2 separate regions of the Homo sapiens genome follow, and region 1 is linked to region 2. Evidence: fine-mapped QTL for protein levels in blood plasma. Region 2 holds a variant in brackets. A gene starts in the other region. All regions are shown on their reverse strands.

Region 1 (15,585 bases), not on the chromosome of region 2:
AATAATAAAAGTGGCCGGGCGTGGTGGCTCAGGTTTGTAATCCCAGCACTTTGGGAGGCCACGGCGGGTGGAGCACGAGGTAAGGAGATCGAGACCATCCTGGCTAACACTGTGAAACCCCGTCTCTACTAAAAACACAAAAAATTAGCCGGGTGTGGTGGCGGGCGGCTGTAGTCCCAGCTACTCGGGAGGCTGAGGCAGGAGAATGGCGTGAACCCGGGAGGCGGAGCTTGCAGTGAGCCGAGATTGTGCCACTGCACTCCAGCCTGGGAGACAGAGCGAGACTCTCTCTCAAAAAAAAAATTAAAAAAAAAAATAATAATAATAAAAGCACCGTCCTCTCTTGTCCTCTGGGACACCCCTGCTCCTGATGTTTTCCCATCTTTTTTTTTTTTTTTTTTCAGATGGAGTTTTGCTCTTGTTGCCCAGGCTGGAGTGCAATGGCGCAATCTCGGCTCAGCACAACCTGTGCTTCCCGGGTTCAAATGATTTTCCTGCCTCAGCCTTCTGAGTAGCTGGGATTACAGTCATGCACCACCACATCCAGCTAATTTTGTGTTTTTAGTAGAGACCGGATTTCTCCATGTTGGTCAGGCTGGTCTCGACCTCTCAACCTCAGGTAATCCACCCACCTCAGCCTCCCAAAGTGCTGGGATTACAGGTGTGAGCCACCGCGCCTGGCCCCTTCCCATCTTTCTGGATGCATTTTTCCAGTTCTCCTTTAAGCCACCTCCTCCTTCTCCTGGGAGCCTGGGGTTCAGTGTTGGGGCCTCTCACCCACTCTCTTCACTTCCTCCACTGACATTGTCCAGGTGGGTGGCTTTAGCACTGGCAGCTGGGGCAGGTTACTCAACCCTCCTGGCCCATCTGTGTGGGTTCCCCCAAAGGCAGAGCCTGAAGCAAGGCTTTAGTGCAGAGAGTTGGTTCAGGGAGCAGGGTGGGAGCTGGGTACCCCCGGGGCACCCTGAGTCCCACACTCATCAGGCACCCTCTGAGGAACTGAATACAACATTCCCCAGAGTTGACCACCCAAGATGAGGACACAAGGCCAAGACATCAACCTTCTGGCCTTCCCATTTGTCCTCAGACGCACACCAAGCTCACCCTGCCACAGGGCCTTTGCATGTGCTGTTCCCTCTGCCACCCTCCCAGACTTTGCCTGGCATCCTCTTCTTAGCTTTTAGGCCCAGGCAGGAAAGGGCCACCTGTGCCCAGGAGGCCGCCCCTGCCCCAAGATGCCCTAGACGTGATCCATGCCTGCTTCTCCCCAGTTCCACCACAACCCAGAATGATGGTTTCCTTGCTAGCTTGCTGGTGTCTGTCCCACCTGACAGGGAGCGCCAGTGGCAGGGAGAGGGTCTGTATCTCCATTAGGTGCTGGGTGGACACTCAACCCCGTGCCCCTTCTCTCCATGGACGCAGCATCGACTTCCCATCAGGGATACTCATCAACTCCAGCCGTGTTCAAGGTGCTGCATGGGCATCAGAACCCACCCGATTACCACAGAAATAATCCATTTTTAATCTGCATGGGTCTTTTTACTAATTATGAGACAAATAGTTCAATGTCTTATGGAATCCAGGAACAGAAAAAGGACATTTGTTTAAAAAAAAAAAAAAAAGGCTGGGTGCAGTGGCTCGCGCCTGTAATCCCAGCACTTTGGGAGGCCGAGGTGGGTGGATCATGATGTCAGGAGATCGAGACCATCCTGGCTAACACAGTGAAACCCTGTCTCTACTGAAAATACAAAAATTTAGCCAGGCGTGGTGGCACACACCTGTAATCCCAGCTACTTGGGAGGCTGAGTCAGGAGAATGGCGTGAACCCAGGAGGCAGAGCTTGCAGTGAGCCGAGATCACGCCACTGCACTCTAGCCTGGGAGACAGAGCAAGACTCCATCTGAAAAAAAAAAAAAAAACAAAAAAACAAGCCTGGTGAAATCCAAATCCAAATAAAATAACATTTGGAATTTAGTCAATAATCATGAAATAGTAATTGTTATCACCTTTTTTTTTTTTGAGACGGAGTTTCGTTCCTGAAACCTTGTCTCTATAATAATAAAAATTTTTTAAAAATTCTAAAATAAGGTTGGGAACAGTGGCTCATACCTGTAATCCCAGCATTTTGGGAGGCCAAGGTGGGAGGATCACTTGAACTCAGGAGTTTGAGACCAGCCTGGGCAACGTGGCAAAACTCCACCTCTACTAAAAATACAAAAATTAGCTGGGTATAATGGCACTCACCTGTAGTCCGAGCTACTTGGGAGGCTGATCCCAGAGGATTGCCTGAGCCTGGGAAGCAGAGGTTGCAGTTAGCCAAGATCGCACCACTGCAGTACAGCCTGGATGACAGAGCGAGACCCTGGCAAAAAAAAAAAAAAAAAGTAAGAAACTAAAAATTGCTAAAGTGAAAAAAAATGGATGAATGCCTTCAGATGAGGCTCAATCCAGGAACTCAAACAACCTTCTCAGAAATCTAGACTTTTGGGCTGGGCACGGTGGGTGGCACATGCCTGCAATCTCAGCAGTGTGGGAGGCTGAGGCAAGAGAATCACTTGAGTTCAGGAGTTCGAGACCAGCCTGGGCAACAGGGGGAGACCCCCAACTCTACAAAAAATATAAAAATTAGCCAGGCATGGTGATGCATGTCTGTAGTCCCAGCTACTTGGAAGGCTGAGGTAGGAGCATCTCTTGAGCCCAGGAGTTTGAGACCAGCCTGGGTCGGGACAACATAGCAAGATCCTGTCACTACTAAAGATCAAAAAAATTAGCCAGATGTGATGGCATGCATCTGTAGTCCCAGCTACATGGGAGGCTGAGGTGGGAGGATCGCTTGAGCCCAGGAGGTCAAGGCTGCAGTGAGCTGTGATTGCACCACTGCACCCCAGCCTGAGCGACAGAGCAAGACCCTGTCTCAAAAAAAAGTAAAAAAAGAAAGAAAAGGACAGAAAGATAAAAAGAAAAAAAAGAAATCTGGCCCCTTCCATTTGCTGCCGTCTGTCAGCATCTGCTTGAGACAGTGCATCTCTTCGAGCAGTCAAGAAAGTCCAGCCTACCTCAACTCACGCCATCCCTGGAGCCCACCCCAGCCACGGGAAACCACCTTTTCCTCTAATGGCCCAGTTCAAGTCCCAGGGCAGGCTCTCATTGGCCCACTTGGGTCACATGGTCATCCCCCAGCCAATCCCCGTCTCTAGGAGATGGAATTATCTGTTTGGCCAAGCATGGGTTACGTCATACACAATGGAGGAGGTGGGCCAGTCCACCTGATCCACGTCGCCTGAAAGTGACAGAACAGGTGGTTTTCAGCACGTGAAGGTGGAGGGGAAGGGGCACCCTGGGGAGGCCATGTCACAGGCCTGGAGCCTGGGCAGTGGGGTAAGAAAGCAAGAGGTCTCTTCCAGGAATTCTGGACGGTGCCCGGGGCACTGGGTGCCTGCAGGGAACAGATTCCGAGCGTGCACAAGAAACCGGCACAGAATGAGGACCGGGCGAGCAGCGGCCAAGGAGGGTCCAGGGCCCTGAGTCCCATGGGGTGACTCCAGCCGGGGAGGGTCCCAACTCTGCGTGGCCCCTGCTGGTGCCCAGGAACAGACGGACAGCCCCAGGGACCGGGGGGTCCAGGGGTCTGTGGGGCAGGGATGGGGAGGCCCCACCCAGTCCACGCAGGAGGTTGAGGTATCCTGGGACCACCGTGTCCTAGGTTTTGCATTTTTAGTAGAGACGGGGTTTCACCTTGCTGGTCAGGCTGCTCTCGAACTCCTGACCTCAGGTGATCCACTGGCCTTGGATCCCCAAAGTGCTGGGATTACAGGCGTGAGCCACCGTGCCCAGCCCAGTGTCTGCAATTTGATGAGTTTGCACATATGCAGTCACCACACTCAAGATGACAGGCCTACCTGTCACTTCCCGAGGTCCCTTGTGTCCCACTGTTTTTGTTCTTTTATGGTAAGAACCCTTACCATGAAATCTACCCTGTGAACACAGTTTGAAGTGTGGGGTACCATACTGTTCACTGTAGCCCAGTCACACAGCAGATCGCGGCATTCCTTAAGCCTCAAGGCCATACAACCATGAAGGAAATGGAACCTAATTGATCCACATCCGCCGGGACCCGCGTCTCAGTCTCCCCTCTAGCCCTGACGCTGCCTCAAGGAGGGGGTCCAGGCTGAAATTCAGAGTAGGGGGACTCGGCTGATTCCTGGGTCAGGGTCCAGGCAAGGGCAGGGGAATGTAGTAAGCTGGGACCCCGCCCAACTGGGACCCCAGGAGCCTCTGAGCCTCAGCAGCCACCCCCTCCACCTACACCGGGTGTCTTAGGCTGAGCTCCCAGCCTCCTCCTAGGGACATCCAGAGGACAGAGGTGGGAGACGGTAGGGGACAAGAACTGGGGGTGGGGGGCAGCCCTCCACATCTTCACCACCACCTCTGCCAATCTTGCCAGCTCTAGAGCCCCCACGCAGGGTGCAGTGGCTGCGGTATGCACTCCCAGGAGGGAACAGGGGCTGCGGGGTACACTTTCCATAGAACTCAGTGCCTACTGTATGCGCTCCCTGCAGGAGACAGCGCCTTATGTATACCTTCCTTGCAGGATGCAGCACCTGCTGTATACCTTCCTTGCAGGATGCAGCACCTGCTGTATATACTCTCTACAGGATGCAGTGACTGCTGTATGCACTCCTCTGAAGGTGCCATATCTACTGTATACACTCCTTTGCAGGGCAGAGTCTACTCTATGCATTTCTACAAGATGCAGCACCTGCTGTATACCCTTCCTGCAGAGCATAATGCCTGCTGTGTGTGCTCCCTGTGGGCGCTGTGCTTTCTGTATACCTTCCCTGCGGGGCACAGGGCCTGCTGTCTGCACTCCCAGTGGAGCTCTGTGGACTGGACATCTGGGAATGGGGCACATCTGAGGAGGATACAATTGTCCTAATGACACATTGACACATGTCCTGAGCTGACTTCTTTCTTTCTTTCTTTCCTTTTTTTTTTTTTTTTTTTTTTTTGAGACGGAGTCTCGCCTGTCTCCCAGGCTGGAGTGCAGTGGCGTGATCTCGGCTCACTGCCACCTCTGCCTCCCGGGTTTAAGCGATTCTCGTGCCTCAGTCTTCCGAGTAGCTGGGATTACAGGCACTCACCGCCATGCCTGGCTAAGTTTTATATTTTTAGTAGATACTGGGTTTCACCATGTTGTCCAAGCTGGCTTCAAACTCCTGACCTCAGGTGATCCGCCTGCCTCGGCCTCCCACAGTGCTGGGATTCCAGGCATGAGGCGCCGCGCCCGGCCTGCCCTTCTCTCTTGACCCCTTCAGTGAGGGCCTTCTTGACATCCCCGCAACCACCACCCCCCAACCTGGGGCCATCAGTGGTGGGCCTGGGCTATTTTCTCCAATAGTCCAGGTCAGAAGGTGGGGGGTCATACATTCCAGGGGGCTGCCTTACCCGCTGGCCTGGGACTGGCTGGGTTGTTCACAGCTGTGCACACAGTAGGTGCTCAATAAATGGCATATGGGTGGCTCTGCTGACATGCTACAGGCTGGAGGGCAGACTGAGTTGGACCAGCAACACCCTGTATGTCCCCAGCAAACCTCTCTCCCTGTGGTCAGCGCTGTGGGACAGCAGGGTGGGCTTCCTGGAGGAGGGGGTGCTCAGACCGAGCCTGGGTGGAGCCCAGGGAGCAGGACAGTCCCTCCACCCCCTCCTTTAGTGCCCCAGTCCCTCAGCCCGCCCGCCAGGGGGCGCCGTGGGGCGACACCAGAAACTGGTGGAGCCCAGAACCCAGGGCCTGGTCTCATCCCTGCGTGGGTGGGCACGGGGCGGCTCACAGACGCCCGGCGGGAAAGGGTGGGGTGGGGGGAGTCCCGGGGTGCCCCCTCGCGTTGCCGGTCCGCGCAGAGCCGGATTCCAGATGGAAGGTTCGCGGTGGAGATCCCTGCCGGGCCCACTGCTGGGATGGGGAAACTGAGGCCGGAGAGGGTGTGGCCGCGGCTGTGAGGGAGAGGGACCGCCTGGACCCGGGTCTGGCTCTGAAGCCCCGCTGGCAGCCCCGGGGCCCGGCAGGGAGGGCGGGAGGCGGGGTGGGGCGCGTCCCCTGGTGACAGCAGCGCCCGGGAATGCGCCAGCTGGGAGGGTCTCTCCGCCCCCCGCGCGCGGCCCACGGGGCCGAGCCTCTCCCCAGTGCGCTGGGGCCCTGCGCTGGGGGTGACCGGGACCTGGGTCGGGGAACCCCCGGATGGGAGCCCAGGCGCGCCAGGGTCCCCATCCACGAGCAGGTCGACCCCCCGCGAGAGGGGTGAGGGGCAGGACCAGGGGAGGGGGCTGTGACCGGGGATGGGGACGCCGGTGGGACGCAATCCGGGCGTCGGCGGGGTAGGGGCAGCGCCCGGGACTCCCAGACCCAGGGCGGGGTGACCTCGGTTCGCGCACATTCCCGGGCCCTGAGCGCGGCGCCCGGAATAGCAGCCCCGGGGCAGAGGAGGGCGGTCAGTCCCCGCGCCGCGCCCCCGCCCGAGCCTGCCAAGGTCACCCGGACCCGGGCGCCCGACACCAGCCTGCGGCTCCGGGACCCCTGCGCTCGCGTCCGCCGGGCAGTCCCCTGCCGCAGATCCGCGCCCGCCGCGCGAGGGCGCCCGGGGCCGCCGCCCCTCCTGACCCGGGCCTGGGCGCGCCTGCGGAGGCCGCGGTGGGAGGGACCGTCCCAGGCTCCCCACCCCGCCCAGCACCTTGGGCCCCGCCGCTTCCGCTCGCCCTGGGGCCGCTCAGGGAGCCGGGACGCGCTGCCTGGGCTCCGCGCAGCCGGTAAGTCCATCTGCCTATCCTCCCACTTTCTCCGGGGGAAACTGAGGCCCAGAGGTGCGGCTTGCCTTGAGATCCCTCCGCCAGTCCGGGCTGCAGCCCACACGGGGAGGGGAGAGCCTTGATTCTGGGCAGGGCCCATTGAGGAGGGGGTAGGGTGGTCCTTGTAGCCCCCCACTTTTCACCACCTAGACCCCCACTCCTCAAACCAGGCTTAGAGTCCGGTGGGGGTGGTCAGAAGGTCAAGCCCCCTCCCCCTGTTTTTTTTGGTTGGTTGGTTGTTTTTGAGACTGAGTCTCACTATGTCGCCCAGGCTGGAGTGCATTGGCCCCATCTCGGCTCACTGCAACCTCCGCCTCCTGGGTTCAAGCGATTCTCCTGCCTTAGCCTCCCAAGTAGCTGGGATTACAGGTGTGCACCACCACACCGGGCTAATTTTTGTGTTTTAGTACAGATGGGGTTTTACCATGTTGGTCAGGCTGGTCCCAAACTTCTGACCTCAGGTGATCCGCCTGTCTTGGCCTCCCAAAGTGCTGGGATTACAGGCGTGAGCCACCGCACCTGGCCCCCCTCCCCTTGTTTTAAGTTTCTGGTGCAGACTTCTTCCTGCTTCCTGGGCCAGCCCAGGCTCTAGGCTCAGAGAGGGGCACGGATGCAGCAGACCACACAGCTGTCTCAGTACCTAGAGATACCCAGGACCCTAGACCCTTGGTGCCTCAGAAGTCCAAATGCTGGAGCCAGGGAAACAGGGTCCAGGTGGGACCCAGCCTCTTCCCCAGCTGGTGCCCGGGCCGGGGCTCACCCACCTGCCTTCAGGCTCTGCTGGCAGCAGGACGCCCTGGCTCACTTGGCGGCTGCTTCCCTTCCCCCCTCTTTCCCCCTGCAGGCTGGGGTCATGAGGAGGGTGTGGATGGCAAGTGACTTCATCCCTGCCCTGACAGGATGGAGAAACTAAGGCCCAGAGAGGCAGTCAGCCTCCTCCCCTTCCCTGCTCCAGCCTCAGCAGTGGCCCCTTCCCTCCACGGGCTGCCCCGGAGCTCAGTCCCACCCCCTCCGCCGATGAGGCCATGAGGCACCGAACGGACCTGGGCCAGGTCACCCCCTCCCTGTCCCATCCCCAATCCGGGGGACTCCCTGCTGTCTGGGAGCTGAGGGAGCCCTGGGGCCGGGGTGCAGCTGAGGGCCTCTTCTAGGGACCCAACTCCTGATCCAGCCCCTGCCGGCCGCACCTTCCGCAGGGTGTCACAGAATCATGGACTGAGTCCACTTGGCCCCCACTGCACAGATGGGGAAACTGAGGCCTGGGAGAGTGGAGTGGCTGGCCTCAGGCCACACGGAAAGGTAGAAGCAGTGATGGTGGGGAGGGCGGGGAGGGGGCCCCAGCCCTAGGAGGCACCTGTGTACTATTTTTGAATGATCCCTCCAATCATCAAGCATCGATTAAGCACCTACTGTCTGCATTATAGCACAATACACATATCAATAATATTGTAGGCTGGGTGCAGTGGCTCATGCCTATAATCCTAGCACTTTGGGAGGCCAAAGCAGGTGGATCACTTCAGGTCAGAAGGTTGAGACCAACCTGGCCAAGATGGTGAAACCCTGTCTCCACTAAAACGGCAAAAATTAGTCCGGCGTGGTGGCAGGCACCTGTAATCCTAGCTTCTCGGGATGCTGAGGCAGGAGAATTACTTGAACCGGGGAGGGTTGCAGTGAGCCGAGATCGCACCCCTGCACTCCAGCCTGGGCGACAGAGCGAGACTCCGTCTCAAAAACAAACTAACTAACAACAATAATAATTGCAGATGACATTCTGAGTTCTTCCTCTCCATACCGGGCTCCACGTCTCCTGTCTTCTTTACCTGATCCACAGGACCCCTCAACTTTCCTGTAAGGGAGGCTCTATTACCCCGTTTTTCAGAGACGAGAGGTAGGGCTCAGAGAGGTTTAGTTACTTTCCAAGATCACACAGCCAGTCAGGGCAGAGCCGGGACACAACCCTGTGTCTCTGGCGGTGGCTCTATGGACTCGGCCCCTCTGTTCCCCAGGCCCCACCTCTTCCAGAACCTCCTGCTCTTCCTGTGGGCCCTGCTGAACTGTGGTTTGGGGGTCAGTGCTCAGGTAAGGGGGGGCATGAGCCCAGGGGGTGGCGAGTGGGAATGGGGACCCAGTCAGCAGTGTGGGGTCACCAGCGTCCCCCTACAAGGCTGACCGTGCCTCTGTCTCCCCAAGTAGGGTCCGGGCGAGTGGACCCCGTGGGTGTCCTGGACCCGCTGCTCCAGCTCCTGCGGGCGTGGCGTCTCTGTGCGCAGCCGGCGCTGCCTCCGGTGAGCGGGGCCCGGAGGGGGTCCCTGCCCCTCCTCCCCCGCCGGCCCAGCCCGGCCCCTGGCCGCACCCTCGGCCTGCCCACACATGCTGTGCCCTTTAATCCCCCTGATCCCGCTGGAATGCGGGTGGGGTTGGCGGGGGCGGAGGGTGGAAGGCCAGCCCTGGGAGGGGGTCCCTGGGGGTTCTCGCCACACTCTGTCTCCCTTCAGGCTTCCTGGGGAAGAACCGTGCTGGGGAGACTCCCATGAGTACCGCCTCTGCCAGTTGCCAGTAAGCCCTGCCCACCTCCCAGACCACTCTCCCACCCCAGACTGCCTGAAGCCCACCACCTGCCCCTTGGGGTTGTCCCAGCCTCTGGCTCACCTATCTCTGTCCCTAGGACTGCCCCCCAGGGGCTGTGCCCTTCCGAGACCTACAGTGTGCCCTGTACAATGGCCGCCCTGTCCTGGGCACCCAGAAGACCTACCAGTGGGTGCCCTTCCATGGGGGTGAGTAGTCTGGTCTCCTGTGGTCAGAATTGGTCCAGAGCGAACAACTCATTAGTCTCAGGGAGAGGGTCTTGGAGGGTTGCAAAGAGAAGAGGGTATTAGTGCTAGGGCTTTGAAGGATATGTAGGAGTTAGTGAAACAGAAACAGCATATGTTAGGCGTGAAACAGGGGCAGAGGGAAGCAGGGTTCATTCTGCACAGGGCTGAACACCCAACTAAGGATTGACTTAGAGCTGTATCCAGAGGCCAACACTTCTCAAACTTATCCCAGTAGCAGGAAATGTTGCTGCATTGAGCTGAAAATAGCGAGTTATATAACTACGTGCCCGGGTCAGTGCGCCTCCAGATTTCAGGGAGACAGGCAGCTTCACACGCCATGGGGAAGGCAGACACAGATATAAGAAAAGCCTAGAATGGACAAAGTGCCATCCATCAACCTCATTTCCTTCCTTCCTTCCCTTTCTTCCTTCCCTTCCTTCCCTTTCTCCCTTCCCTTCCTTCCTCCCTCCCTCCCTCCCTCCCTCCCTTCCTTCCTTCCATCAATCTGAGAATTGGAGGAAACCTGCTGTGATCCCACCCCCGCAGAGGCCCACTAGGGCCAGCCCAGGATCCGTTCCAGGCAGGGTCCACCAGCCAGGCTCAGGGAAATGGGAGCCAGAAGGAGCTGGAGAAGGAGGAGTGGAGATCAGGGCTGTCGGCCTTTGTGTTTGATCAGACAGCTCATTTTGCCCCACTTCCAGGCAGAAGGGGAAACTGAGGCCCAGGGAGGACCAGCGACACAGCTCAGTTGTGCGGGACTCAGTCCAGTCAGTACTGGACAAACACTTCATTGGGTACTTGCTGGTGCCTGGGCCAGATGCTCAGATCTTCTTTTTTTTTTTTTTTTTTTTTTTTTGAGATGGAGTCTCGCTCTGTCACCCAGGCTGGAGTGCAGTGGCATGATCTTGGCTCACTACAGCCTCCACCTCCCTGGTTCAAGCGATTCTCCTGCCTCAGCCTCCGGAGTAGCTGGGATTACAGGCTCCCACCACCAAGCCTGGCTAAATTTTTATTGTTGTATTTTTGGTAGAGACGGGGGGGTCTCGCCATGTTGCCCAGGCTGGTCTTGAACTCCTGGCCTCAGGAGATCTGCCCACCTCAGCCTCCCAATGTGCTGGGATTACAGGCATGAGACACCACACCTGGCCTTTTTTAAGGCCATCCATCTGCACACTGATTGAATTCTTGCTTCTGTATCCTAGAGCTTGGAACAGTGTCTGGAAAACAGTAGGTGTTCAGTGGAATGAAGAATGAGTAATGGTGTTAAAAATGAATAATATGTAAGGACTCCTAATATAAAGACAATGAATGAATGAATGAATGAATGAATGCAGCCCCAGGATACTTGCCTGCGAGTCCCAGGTTGCTGGACGCAGAGCACCTACGGTCCAGTCCTGGCTCTGCCTCAGCCTCGATGTGTGGCTTTGGCCAAATCTCTGGGCTTCATCTGCCCAAAGTGATGGTTGCCTGATGAAGCTTGGTAGAGGGGGACTGGAGCTCGAACAGGGGTCCCCGGCCCACCGACTCCTCCTGCCCTCAGCGCCCAACCAGTGCGACCTCAACTGCCTGGCTGAGGGGCACGCCTTCTACCACAGCTTCGGCCGCGTCCTGGACGGCACCGCCTGCAGCCCGGGTGCCCAGGGGGTCTGCGTGGCTGGCCGCTGCCTTGTAAGGACTCGTCAGGCCCCGCCCGAGCCCCGCCCACCTCCCACTCAGGCCCCACCCATCCTAGGCTCCACCTCCGCCCTCCTCCCATTAGCCTCCACCCCCTCCCTAGGCTCCACCGCCTTCCCCCTCCCCTTCCAGGCCCTGCCCCCAGCCCCCCTTAGGCACCCACTCCCGGGCGCCAAGCCCATCCTCCTCCCGCCAGGTCCTGCTCCTCCCTAGGCTCCACCCCCATCTTCCCTCCAGGCCTCGTCCTCTTGCTCCCAGGCACTGCCCTTTCCCCAGGTCCTGCCCCTCCCAGCGTCAGTGACGCCGCGCCTGTCCTTCACCCTTTAGAGCGCCGGCTGTGATGGGTTGTTGGGCTCGGGTGCCCTCGAGGACCGCTGTGGCCGCTGCGGAGGCGCCAACGACTCGTGCCTTTTCGTGCAGCGCGTGTTTCGTGACGCCGGTGACTACCTGCCCCGCCCTCCCTGCACACACGTCAGAGTGGGCCCTTTAACGAGCCGTGGCCCGGAAGCAAATTTCCGTGCTGATTGGCCAGTGTGCGGCCCAGCCCCCCTTTCTCCTCATCCTGATTGGCTACTGACAGATTGTCCCGCCCTTCCCCAGGACAGATGGGGTTTTAACCCTTTCCCTGCCACACTGAAGCAATAGTAATTGTAACTCCAAACGTTTACGGAGGGTTTTCCGGTTCCCAGGACCCTGGCTAGCTGTCTTACCCGCAGTAGCTCATTAAATCCTCAAGTCATCGCTCAAATACACCCCCACTGGCACCCCAACACCCTCCTACCCTCCCACCCAGGTGCCTTCGCTGGGTACTGGAACGTGACCCTGATCCCCGAGGGCGCCAGACACATCCGCGTGGAACACAGGAGCCGCAACCACCTGGGTATCCTAGGATGTGAGGCGAGAGGCACCCGGCTGGGCACCCGGGGGCGGTTGTCCCTGTTTACAGATGGGGAGACTGAGGCCTGAGGAGGGGACCCCAGGGTCTGGGAGACGAGACGACAGGTTCCTGAGGGCTGACTGTTCCCTTGCAGCACTGATGGGGGGCGATGGGCGCTACGTGCTTAATGGGCACTGGGTGGTCAGCCCACCAGGGACCTACGAGGCGGCCGGCACGCATGTGGTCTACACCCGAGACACAGGGCCCCAGGAGACATTGCAAGCAGCCGGGCCCACCTCCCATGACCTGCTCCTACAGGTGCCACTGGGCCTCCAACAGGGTCAGAGGGGGTCGGCTGGGGACAGAGGGGAGAGGCTGGGGACAGAGGGTAGGAGTGGAGGTGACTGGGGCCAGAAGGGGGAGTCTGGGGTCAGAGGGGAGAGGCTGGGACAGAGCATCAGAGGGGGGAGGGTGGGGACAGGGTCAGAGGGGATCAGCTAGGGACAGAGCATCAGAGGAGGGAGGCTGGGGGCAGACAGGATCAAAGTGGGGAGGCTGGGGTCGTAGGGTCAGAGGCAGGAGGCAACCCCAGCCTCCTGTGAAGCTCCCTGTGTCCCCTCCCCTGCTCCAGGTCCTCCTGCAGGAGCCCAACCCTGGCATCGAGTTTGAGTTCTGGCTCCCTCGGGAGCGCTACAGCCCCTTCCAGGCTCGTGTGCAGGCCCTGGGCTGGCCCCTGAGGCAGCCTCAGCCCCGGGGGGTGGAGCCTCAGCCCCCCGCAGCCCCTGCTGTCACCCCTGCACAGACCCCAACGCTGGCCCCAGGTGAGGTGGGGACAGCCAGGGTGGGGGATGAGTGGGGACTGAGGCCTGTGCCCCTCACAGCACCGCCCATCCCACAGACCCCTGCCCACCCTGCCCTGACACCCGCGGCCGCGCCCACCGACTACTCCACTATTGCGGCAGTGACTTTGGTGAGACCCCCGACCTCTACCCTGACTTAGCCCCTACTAACCTGGCCTCCTCCTGACCTCTGACCCTAATCTGACTTTACCCTTGACCCCTTCTTCTGATCCTAATTTGCCTCTTGACCCTAATCCCTCATTGATCCCTGACGTGATCCTGACTCTAGTCCCTATAGATCCCGAGGTCCCACCTGACCCTCAGTCCCTCTTCTGGCAAGGGAGGGGGCGTAGAGATTTGCGCAGAGTTGAGCAGCCAGCCAGCTTAGCACGTCCCCTCAACAGTGTTCCAGGCCCGAGTGCTGGGCCACCACCACCAGGCCCAGGAGACCCGCTATGAGGTGCGCATCCAGCTCGTCTACAAGAACCGCTCGCCACTGCGGGCACGCGAGTACGTGTGGGCGCCAGGCCACTGCCCCTGCCCGATGCTGGCACCCCACCGGGACTACCTGATGGCTGTCCAGCGTCTTGTCAGCCCCGACGGCACACAGGACCAGCTGCTGCTGCCCCACGCCGGCTACGCCCGGCCCTGGAGCCCTGCGGAGGACAGCCGCATACGCCTGACTGCCCGGCGCTGTCCTGGCTGAGCCCCTGCAGGAGCCCCGGCCACACACAGCAAGAAAGATACATCTGACCAGCCTCAACGTCAACGTATTTCCCCTCTCACCCTGGCTTCCAGGCAGCTCTGAAATACGTCCCACCTGTGCAGCTATGTGACTCCCTCCCACACACGCTTAAGACACCTCTGCATGCAGTCAAAGCCACTGTCACAAGCCGGCAGGCACTGGTGAGGAGGCACTAAGGAGACTCTGACTTTTATTTCGCCTCTCTCCTTGGCTGCCAGGAAGCTCATAGCTATTTATACTCAGAAAGTTTAACGCTGCTTTCTTTCTCTTTGCGCGCGTCACACTTGCTTGGAGACACTGTCATGAACGAGCATGACACCCTGCTGCCCTGGGTACCCAGAAGATCATCTGTTTACTTCCCAGACACTGTGCTGTCTCTGCTCTCTGCTACTCACACACACCCTCATGTGTGAAGGGCAGAGACACTGTCACAAACAGGCATGCCCCTTAGAAGACATGCCTAACCAGGCACTGTAACGTACCAACGTACCAATTTCCCCTTTTCCCCTGGCTACCAGGAAACTCGGAGACAATCTTTTCAGCCTCAGCATTTCTGGCTGGATTTCCACCCATCAACACGTGCTTGCTCCTCCTTTTTTTTTTTTTCTGAGGTAGACCCTTGCTCTGTCACCTAGGCTGAAGTGCGGTGGTGCAATCATGGCTCACTGCAGCCTCAAATTCCTGGGCTCAAGCGATCCTCCCACCTCAGCCTCCACAGCAGCTGGAACTCCAGGTGTGAATCACCATGCCCGGCTAACTTTTAAATTTTTTGTAGAGATGGGGTCTTGCTACGTTGCCCACACTGCTCTCCAACTACTGGCCTCAAACGATCCTCCTGCCTCGGCCTCCCAAAGCACTGGAATTTCAGGCATGCACTATCGTACTGGCTGTTCACCCCCCTTTTATTCCTCTTTAATTTTTACAAGCACTTTTTAAAAAAAAATTTTACTTTAAGTTCTGGGTGTGTACAGAATGTGCAGGTTTATTACATTAGTATACACGTGCCATGGTGGTTTGTGGCACCCATCAACCCATCATCTAGGTTTTAAGCCCCACATGCATTAGGTATTTGTGCTAATGCTCTCCCTCCCCTCGGCCCCCACCCCACAAAGGACCCGGTGTGTGATGTTCCCCTCCCTGTGTCCATGTGTTCTCATTGTTCAACTCCCACTTGTGAGTGAGAACAAGTGGTGTTTGGTTTTCTGTTCCTGTGTGAGTTTGCTGAGAATGATGGCTTCTAGCTTCATCCATGTCCCTGCAAAGGACATGAACTCATCCTTTTTTATGGCTGCAGAGCACTTTTTTTTTTTTTAAGCACCCCAGTCACATGCACTCGGTCACAGAGACTCAGGGACACGCTGGTAGAACCCCGTCTCGACCTTGCTCATGGGTAGGCACGCATGTTCACACGCACCCCACCCCTCCTCCTGGTCCAGCCTCACCTCCTCCCTGCACGTCTGACACTGTGTGAGGTGAGGGCAGGGAATAGAGGAGGATAGGAGCAGGTGGGGAATGAATGGGGCTTTGGTAGGTCCTGAGCCTCCCCCAACTGCCACATACTTTCTCAGGCCCACCCTGGGAACCCCTCCCCAGGTGAGGAGGCAGGTGAGAGCCGCTGCTGTCTGCCAGCTGCCAGCCCGCTATGTTCTTCTGCAACCAGGAGGGCCGACACGGGCTGTGTGTGTACTAGGGGGTGTCACGAGGTCGCTCAGCAAACCCTCCTCCGTGGGGTGCCAACCCTCTGCCTCTGACGCCTGATGCATGGCTCATGCTGCCACCCGGGACAACCCACTCTGT
Region 2 (8,392 bases):
TTTACTTTTGAACGTTGGCCTTACAATCAAATGTAAGTTATATATATTTGTACTGATGAAAATTTATAATCTGCTTTAACAAAAATAAATGTTCATGGTAGAAGCTTTTGCCCATGAAGGGCTGTTCTTTCCCCTTTCCTTTATTAGTAAATGAATTTATTTTTCGTTCTTTTGGTCTTACTCTCCATTCTACTGCTGCTGTAAATCCCTAGTTTAGTGACTAGAAAAATACCCTTAAGATTCATATTTTCATTCATACTTTAATCCTGAGTGTATCTCTAAAGTCAGATTCTTGCTGCTCAAAGTGTGGTCTGTAACAGCAGCATGGACTTCACCTAGGAGCTGGTTAGAAATGCAGAATCTCAGCGGGGTGGGGCAGTGCTTCTCAACCTGGGCTATGCAATAGAATCACCTGAGGATATCTTTTTAAAATCCTAACGCCTGGCCTATATTCCAGACCAATTAAATCAAAATTTTAGTGGGGCAGGGGGACCCCCCAGGTTGTGTTTTTTTTTTTTAAGCTCGCAATATGGTAAAGTTGAGAACCACTGGCCTAGAATGAGTTTTACCTCTAATCTTAGCCCACTATTCTGTGACTGGTTCTATTAGAACTAGTTAGCTGCTAGCTAACCTCAAACTTACCTTCTGATGTGTTTATACCAATAGGCCAAAATCTGGTTTAATTAAACTGGGGATTTCAAAAAAGTGGCCTTTATTTTCCAATTTCTATAGCAAAACCAGCCATAAGTGAACATGGATGCTCTTCAATATTTTTCCAGTATTAAATGAAAAAAGACCTCTGCCCCAGCCCACATTTCCTTTGTTGAATGAGTAGAGAAGACTGAGAAGTATCACTCACCCGTGATGTGGTTTGTCCCTTTTCCAGCCAGTGTGTTGGTAATAAAAGTCACCTTTCAGAGCTTTGGTCCCTGTAATGCCCGTCTTTCCTGTGTCCAGGAATAACCTTTGCTACTAGGCAGTCCTCTGAAAGATTTGTAGAAGGTTAAAGTGGAAAGGGACTTGGAAGCTCATAGAATCCATGCCTCTTCTTTTAGCATCAAGGAATTAGAAGTCCTGAGAGATGAAGAATGTTGTCTTCCAACTCAAACCATTTCTGAAGCCATTTCCCTGTTACTGCATTGCCCACAACCCTTCCCCATTGCTATCCTCATCCTGCTAATGCTGTTTTTAATGACTGACAGTCTGATTTGTCTTTGGCAGCAAACATTTTGCTTCACAGATTCCTACTTAAGGAAGAGAGGGGCTCCTCATTGTCACTGTACAGAGCAGGCTGGTCAGCTTTACACAGGTGTCAGATGAACCGTCACAGCCAGATTTGCATGTTGGCCTCAGGAGGGCTTCAAGGTCCAACATCTCGACGTAAGGAGCGTTTCCAGTTCTTTCATGCTCAGATAACAGTGCTAACTGCAGCTGTTTCATCCCAAATCCCTATTTGAGGTCTTAACATCTATTCCATTTTGCCAACAAGGGTTATGCTGTTAACCCTCTGCACCAGATTTAGAGCTGACTGATGCACTGCCTAGAAGGGTGAGAGAGACTAGAGCAATGAACCATCGCTGATTTTAGCACAGAATACTTCCCTGATACAGCAGGACTTGGCATGCCCTTTAGAAAACAAACAGGTGTTAACTTTGAAATCATTACACATCTCCCTGCCCAGCTTTAAATTAAGTGGAACCCTGACAGCTAGCTTTAAAACACATTGATGGGCTGGGCACAGTGGCTCACACCTCTAATCCCAGCATTTTGGGAGGCCGAGGCGGGCGGATTACCTGAGGTCGGGAGTTCAAGACCAGTCTGACCAACATGGAGAAACCCCGTCTCTACTAAAAATACAAAATTAGCCAGGCATGGTGGCACATACCTGTAATCCCAGCTACTCAGGAGGCTGAGGCTGGAGAAGCGCTTGAACCCAGGAGGTGGAGGTTGCAGTGAGCCAAGATCGCACCATTGTACTCCAGCCTGGGCAAGAAGTGCGAAACTCTGTCTCAAAAAAAAAATAAAAAAAATGCATTGATGGCTGGGCGTGGTGGCTCATGCCTGTAATCCCAGCACTTTGGGAGGCTGAGGCGGGCAGATCATCTGAGGTCAGAAGTTCGAGACCAGCCTGGCCAACATGGTGAAACCCCATCTCAACTAAAAATACAAAAATTACCCAGGCATGGTGATAGGCATCTGTAATCCTAGCTACTCAGAAGGCTGACACAGGAGAATCAAGAACCCAGGAGACGGAGGTTGCAGTGAGCTGAGATCGCGCCATTGCCCTCCAGCCTGGGCAACAAGAGTGAAACTCTGTCTCAAAAAACAAACAAACAAATGCATTTAACTATTCCTGTGTAACAAATTATAAAGGGAAGCTGTAAAGTAAAGGTTTTTCTTATCCAAACAGATTGCTCTTCTTGAAAACAGCAGCCTGTGGTTATGTCAGAGATGCAAACACTGCTGAAGGCTACAGAGAGAAGCTGGTAACTGGCTGCCGTTGAGGCTAAACACTGGGTGGGTTTTTGAAAGAGCTAATGTATTCCAGAAGATAACTCCCTTTGCCAGCCAGAGAGAGGAAGCCAAGAGTCCATCTTCCTTTCTCCCTAGCCCTATGAACTATTTTGGACTGGGGCTGGAACTAGCCTTCATCCCTACTGCCAGATGGGCTGAGCGTGAGGCTGGAAACGTGAACAGCTGGCACAGCAGAAGCTGGAGTAATACTCATTGCCACAAAGCTGGGCCTGCAGGATCAAATCACAGTTGGCCAGCTCTGGCTGGTCGACGCAGTCCCTGCCAGGGTCCCTGGGCTGGGCGGTGGGTGCTGCAGAACGACAGGGGAGAGAGAAGGTGGTGAGGAAGCTCTGTGTATGCTGAAAATTCTCACCTGCCATTTCATTTCCTTCAAAGGAACACAGCATTATAACTGCCAGATTGAAAACGAAGTGCACTTACCCTGTAACCTTTTAACCATACGTACAAACTCTATGAGGGATGATGATTTCTACCTGTTTCTTGGCCTCACTTCAACATGCAGTGGTCCTCCCATTATTATTTGTGGCCTCAGCCCACTGAATAGCTCTTCCTAGACTCCCAAATATTTATTGACTGGATAATTAAACATCTCTTGAAGTTAACTCCTTATGTTTGAGACCTGAATTACTAAATGACAACTGTTCTTGCCTCTGGATTGGGAGAGCAGGTAGGATCAGCCCCAAGTAAAATTTTGAGTTAGCAAGAGCTCTTATCTTTTCCCTTTCTCTGCTGGGTTCCTCCAACCATCAAAGTTTTGTCCCTTCAATATCACCAGCTTATCTTAGTCACCTGGGTCCTCATCCTTCCAGTTTTTCACTTTCCCCAGAGGAAGCAATGCATATTAGACAAGGTAATAGGAAAACAGTCCTGTTAACGGTGGCTCTAATACTAACTACACTGAGAACAAAGCAAAGCCCTTGTTTTCTCTCCCTCTGAATTTACTAGGAACGTCTGTATCTCATAACTCCCTATTAAGTTTCATTCAGCTGGGTGTGGTGGCTCATGCCTGTAATCCCAGCACTTTGGGAGGCCAAGGCGGGCGGATCACGAGGTCAGGAGTTTGAGACCAGCCTGGCCAATATGGTGAAACCCCATCTCTACTAAAAATGCAAAAATTAGCCAGGCATGGTGGCGTGCCCCTGTAGTCCCAGCTACTCGGGAAGCTGAGGCAGAAGAATCGCTTGAACCCAGGAGGCAGAGGTTACAGTGAGCTGAGACCACACCACTGCACTCCAGCCTGGGTGACAGAGCAAGATTCTGTCTTAAAAAAAAAAAAAAAATTTCATTCTACTGCTTCATCTCTCTTCTGGAAGGGGTTCTTAAAACTCAGCTGACTTAGACCAGAGTGGTACCTTCCCTGAAGTCAGACCTCAAGCAGCCAGAGAAAGCTTATCTTTCTCTCTCCCCTTGTTTACTCACAAAATACCACTAAAAGACTGTACCTAGCAGCGAACAACCTTACAAACGTTTGGTATATTGGTATAACCAGACTATTACCTACCTAAATTTATATAGATAACAAAGCCATTAATGCATATTGTTTCTAAAAATCTGTAACTTTGGTATCAACTCTGAGCTGGTACAGCCCAAGACCCATCATAGTGGGAACTCAGCATAGTGATTAAGCACACCAGCTCTGGACCCATACTGCCCGGGCTCAATCCGGGCTCTGCCACTTGCCAGCTGGGTAACTCTGGGCAAGTTGCTTAAGCCCTTTATGCACATTTCTTCATCTGTGAAATGGGACTAATAACAGCAACAGCAACCTACTTCACAGCGATGTTGAGAAGTCCTCCCAGTAGAGCTATGTCCCTTTTACCTCAGCCTGACCACCCCAAGGCCTCCTACCCTGGTGCTAACACTGAAATTCAATGTGCCACCCAACCATGAGTAGGGCAGGGTCAGGCAGCCGCACACCGTATGACCCAACAAAAAATGAACAGGTGAGAGCAGCCAGCAGAGGACCGGAGGAGAGTGGCCAGACTGAGGCCATGTCTGTCCCATCTGGGACACACATCTCAGGCCATTTCAGCGTGGTGACCAGGTATCAGGCAAGTTTCTCATTGTAGTTTGGTTTTCCATGTAATCCCATCTGGAGCTAATCGCAAACATAATGTCTAGGTCCTCTTGACAGTTCTCTCACTGTGAATCTGCATTTTGCTTTGTCACACAGCCTTGATTTGGTTATTATGTAGACAAGGTCAATTTTCTGGACATGATACAGGTGAAAAGTAGTCCCTGGAGTGTGGTGCTTTCGCCAATGTAACTCCATCATTGTGCAGGCAGGCACTTAGTCACCATGTATCTGAGTGTCGCGGCTTTTGTAGCTGGGTGAGCAGGAGGGAATGGAGGGAAGAACGAGTTTTAACGCTCCCGTTCACCGAGCTGCGAGCGGCGGGAACATTTGTCCCTGTAACACCCCCTTGGGGCTCCGCGGTTGCTGGCATCTCCGAGTTTTCGGGCGCCACCATGTTCCCCTTGTCTATACGTTAGCACCCAGTGCGGAAGCCGCCTGTGCCGTGCGCTGAGCGCGGGGCCGCCACGAGTGCGGGATCCGGGTCAGCGGAGCGCAGCCTGCCCGGCCAAGTGGGCGGAGCGAGACGGTGGGCCGAGCGAGGCCCCGGACAGAGGTCAAGGCGGCGGGCTGGCGAAGCGGCAGGAAGGAACCCTGTAACCCTCCCTCCCGCTCGCCGAGCAACAGGTGAGAAAAAAGCCGCTGGACAACATTTCCAGCCACAACATGAGCACCTAGTGATGCCAAGCACTGAGCTGGGCCCTGGGGAGGCGATCTCTAAAGAGATCATAGACAGGAAGCCGACAAGTCAGTCCCACTCACAAAGCAACATTTCAGCCAGACCTTCAACTTCTAGTACTGGCCAGTCTCCACCCTCAGCCTGGCAGCCAGGAAGCAGCCAGGCCTGCCCCTCTGAGTGTAACCGTGCTCCTGGCATGGCGCTGCAGCCCTGATTGTCAGGAATGCCCAGAAGACCAGGCAGGAAGGGCCCTGGCACCTCCGAGCCTGGCATACTCCCCCAAGGTCTGTATCAGGCCTGTGAGAATTGGCAGCTTGGCCCGAGGTACCACTCTGTCTTCAGTCCCTCCGTGAACAAGAACCAAGGACACAAGGAAGCACAGGCTGGGGGACGAGCAAAGCCCTGTCCCCCTTTCCCTCCTGCTTATTTGAACATATCTCTTGTAAGTGTGAACTCTGAACCACAATCTGTTTCATCAGTTCTGATATGCACTTATTTTCACATCTCTCAAGTTGGTTTGCATCCTAATTGATGGTATCAGAATTGTGTCGTTTCACTGGCAGCATTTTTTTCTTGGTACAAAAATAATGCATCTTACAGGCAATTTGGATTTGTTGAAGTATGATAGAGTAGTA[GC/C]TAGAGGAGGTAAGGCTACAATATCAAATATCAAATGATGCAAGTAAGATTCCACTTAGGTACAAGTATAGTAATTTCGTGGGGGTAAAAAAAAAAAAACATGGGGAGTCAAAAGACATGGGCTCTAGTCCCAGGTAGGCCACATTTGCGGTGTGACCGGTGGAAACACCACTTACGCTCTCTGCATACCTGTCTCATTTGTAAAATGGTGATGATAATCCCTGCCCTTTCCTTTCTGGGTTATATGGTCAAACGGCCATAAAGTGGCCAGATTTTAGTGGTTTAGAGTGGATTAGAGTGGACAGATTTTAGTGGTCTGCCTTAAGTTTTAAGTTTTATAATGAAATTCCAGTCAGTCATATGTCTCAAAATCGGTGAGTCTGAATGTCCTGCATGCATTAATGTCTATTAAGCTATCTCCAGGGGCCCAGCAGAGCATCATTTCCTTCATCTCCACTACAGCCCTCTCAGGTGGTGGAGCAGCCCCACTGTAGACGGGAGGAAAATGAGGCTCAGGAAGGTAAGCCCCTTGCCCCAAGTCACACTACCAGCAACTGGCAGGGTGAGCCAGGATTCAAACCAGAGTCCCTCAGACTGCAGAGCCAGCCCTTGAGAACCAGTAAATCTACTGGGGAATGTCCTTCCCATCCCCGGATATAGACCTTTCCTACCTGGTGAGACCACCTTCACCTCGGTGCTGCGGCTGACTGCCTGGCTCCCCTGGTAGGCACTGCACGTGTAGGAGCCCTCATCCCTGGCCCGCAAGTTGTAAATGAGCAGCGTGCCATCTGGGGACTGGTGGACACGGTGGCCATCAGCCTGCACAGGTAGCCCGTTCCTGGAGGAGAGAGGACACTGGGAGAGCCATCAAGGGCCTCTGGAGGTCTGGGAGACAGAGGGAAGAGGTAATCAAAGGCCATTCCAGAGCCAACCGTTCCCACCCCTTGAGAGCAAACAGGTGGAGGACAGGGAGAAATCAAGAATGACCAAGGTTTCTAGGTTGGGTTACTGGGTGATGATGGTGCCCCTCCAACCTTGGGAGATCCAAGGCTGGGGTGAATGGCGAGGTTGTTTTCTGCTATTTCAAATTTGGGGTGCCTGTGAGATAGCAGGAGGCCTCAGATTTGAAGTCTGGAGCTCAAGAGTCCAGACCCAGATAGTGTGTCAGCATCGCACTGACGCAGCGAAGTGCATGTCTATGAGGTGGTCCAAGTCACACGGGGAGAAACCAAGGACAGGCCCTGAGGCACAGCAGAAGACAGTAGTTCCTGGAGCAGAGGGAAGGGAGAATTTCAAGAAGGAGCATACGGCAAGCAGAACGACACTACAGGTCACGTAAAGACTGCAAGGTGTCCAGTGGAGTTAGGGAGAGAGGCAGTGACCTTGGCCAGGACAGTGTCCTGGAACAGGGGCTGACATGCGGCCCCACTGCAGGCCCTGAGAAGTGAGTAGGGAGATGAACAGGCAGAGGCAACCAACATGGACAGCTGTAAAGGGGACACTATGTCAGCATAGGGTCTGCAGGGACATAGAGGCTCAATGGAAGGTGGTTGTGAAGAGGGGAGTTCTATGCATGTTTGCTGCTGGAAAGATCCAGGAGAGGCCAACATGGAGAAGCAGGCCTGACAGGCTGATCAGGGGATGGCTGGACTGAGCACACCAGTGGGGACACCTCTAGCGGCTCCCACCGCCTTCCCTGGGCTCAAGGCCACACAAGACACAGATGCCCTCCGCAATCGCGTCACCTCTCCCAGCCAGTGCACAGGCCGGTTCCTATCCTGGTGTCCTTTCTCAAATGCCCACCTTTGGCACTTGCTGCTTCCTCTACCAAGAACATCCTTTGCCATCCTTAGCTATTAAGGTGCAGCCAAAGTCATTTCCTGGCCCTCTTCCTTGACACTCCTCTGTGCACAGACAGCAGTTGCAACAAAACACATCTGGAGCTCCTGGGACACTGGGCCATCTGCCCGGGAGTACTCTGGGGGCTCAGGTGACCCCAGGATCCCCAGAACCTAGCCTAGTCCTGACACATTACAGGGAAGGAGGAGGCAAAAAATGGCTGCTAAATGAATGGACAAATATAAAACCAATTGATCTAGGGTAAAAGACCACCAAAGTCCCCAAAGCTGAGTGTAGTCCAGTGGTTCACAGCTCCAGGAGAGATTTTGCCACCAGGGGACATTTGGCAGTGGGTCTGGAGCCATTCTTTATTGTCATGACTTTGGGGAGGGTGCCCCTGGCATCTAGTGGGTAGATGCCCTGGATGCTGCTAAACATCCTGCAAAGCACAGGACAGCCCTCAGCAACCAAAACTTACCAGCTCCAAACTGTCAGCAGTGCTGAGGTTAGGAAACCTTAGTGTAGCCCAACCAGCAGAGAGCCAGTGGCCCTACAGAGCTTTGCTCTGTAGGGATGAGGGTGCTGCAGCCCTCTCCCCTGGCACCAGGCCTGGAAGCCGGAATGGAAGC

Which allele goes with the higher level. Alleles are on the strand shown, and positions count from the first base shown. The strength of an association depends on the size of the effect and on how common the allele is.
In carriers of allele C in region 2, the plasma level of the protein whose gene starts at base 6,745 in region 1 tends to be lower than with GC alone (moderate association).

What was found. A credible set is the group of variants that fine-mapping cannot tell apart. PIP is the posterior inclusion probability: the model's chance that the variant is causal. The UK Biobank Pharma Proteomics Project read protein levels with antibody pairs (Olink). The fine-mapping took linkage between variants from a reference panel, not from the people measured, so its PIPs are less certain.
Region 1: it holds the start of ADAMTSL5, and the variant in region 2 is the best candidate, but not a certain one, in a credible set for the plasma level of the ADAMTSL5 protein (UK Biobank, PIP 0.59).

The regions. Positions count from the first base shown.
Region 1 is chr19:1,504,179-1,519,763 of GRCh38, reverse strand. ADAMTSL5 (ADAMTS like 5) reads left to right here and starts at 6,745. Exons shown (of 12, transcript NM_213604.3): 1 at 6,745-6,801; 2 at 8,604-8,919; 3 at 9,034-9,125; 4 at 9,336-9,396; 5 at 9,506-9,614; 6 at 11,194-11,321; 7 at 11,655-11,766; 8 at 12,121-12,207; 9 at 12,359-12,522; 10 at 12,836-13,025; 11 at 13,103-13,174; 12 at 13,448-14,742. The coding sequence starts at 8,821. The coding sequence ends at 13,749. It overlaps LOC124904609 (a long non-coding RNA gene), which reads right to left and starts at 11,772. Exons shown (of 2, transcript XR_007067084.1): 1 at 11,648-11,772; 2 at 10,650-11,100. It overlaps LOC107985337 (a long non-coding RNA gene), which reads right to left and starts at 2,362. Exons shown (of 3, transcript XR_001753835.2): 1 at 2,245-2,362; 2 at 1,328-1,472. RefSeq lists silencers at 5,632-5,711, 6,551-6,920, 11,647-11,846 and an enhancer at 11,171-12,020.
Region 2 is chr14:73,266,927-73,275,318 of GRCh38, reverse strand. PAPLN (papilin, proteoglycan like sulfated glycoprotein) reads right to left here. Exons shown (of 27, transcript NM_001365906.3): 26 at 6,596-6,762; 27 at 696-2,824. The coding sequence ends at 2,655. It overlaps NUMB (NUMB endocytic adaptor protein), which reads left to right. Exons shown (of 13, transcript NM_001005743.2): 13 at 1-103. Among named protein-coding and RNA genes, the nearest start is that of PAPLN-AS1, 25 kb to the right of the region's middle. The variant GC/C (reference allele first, on the strand shown) is at 5,924.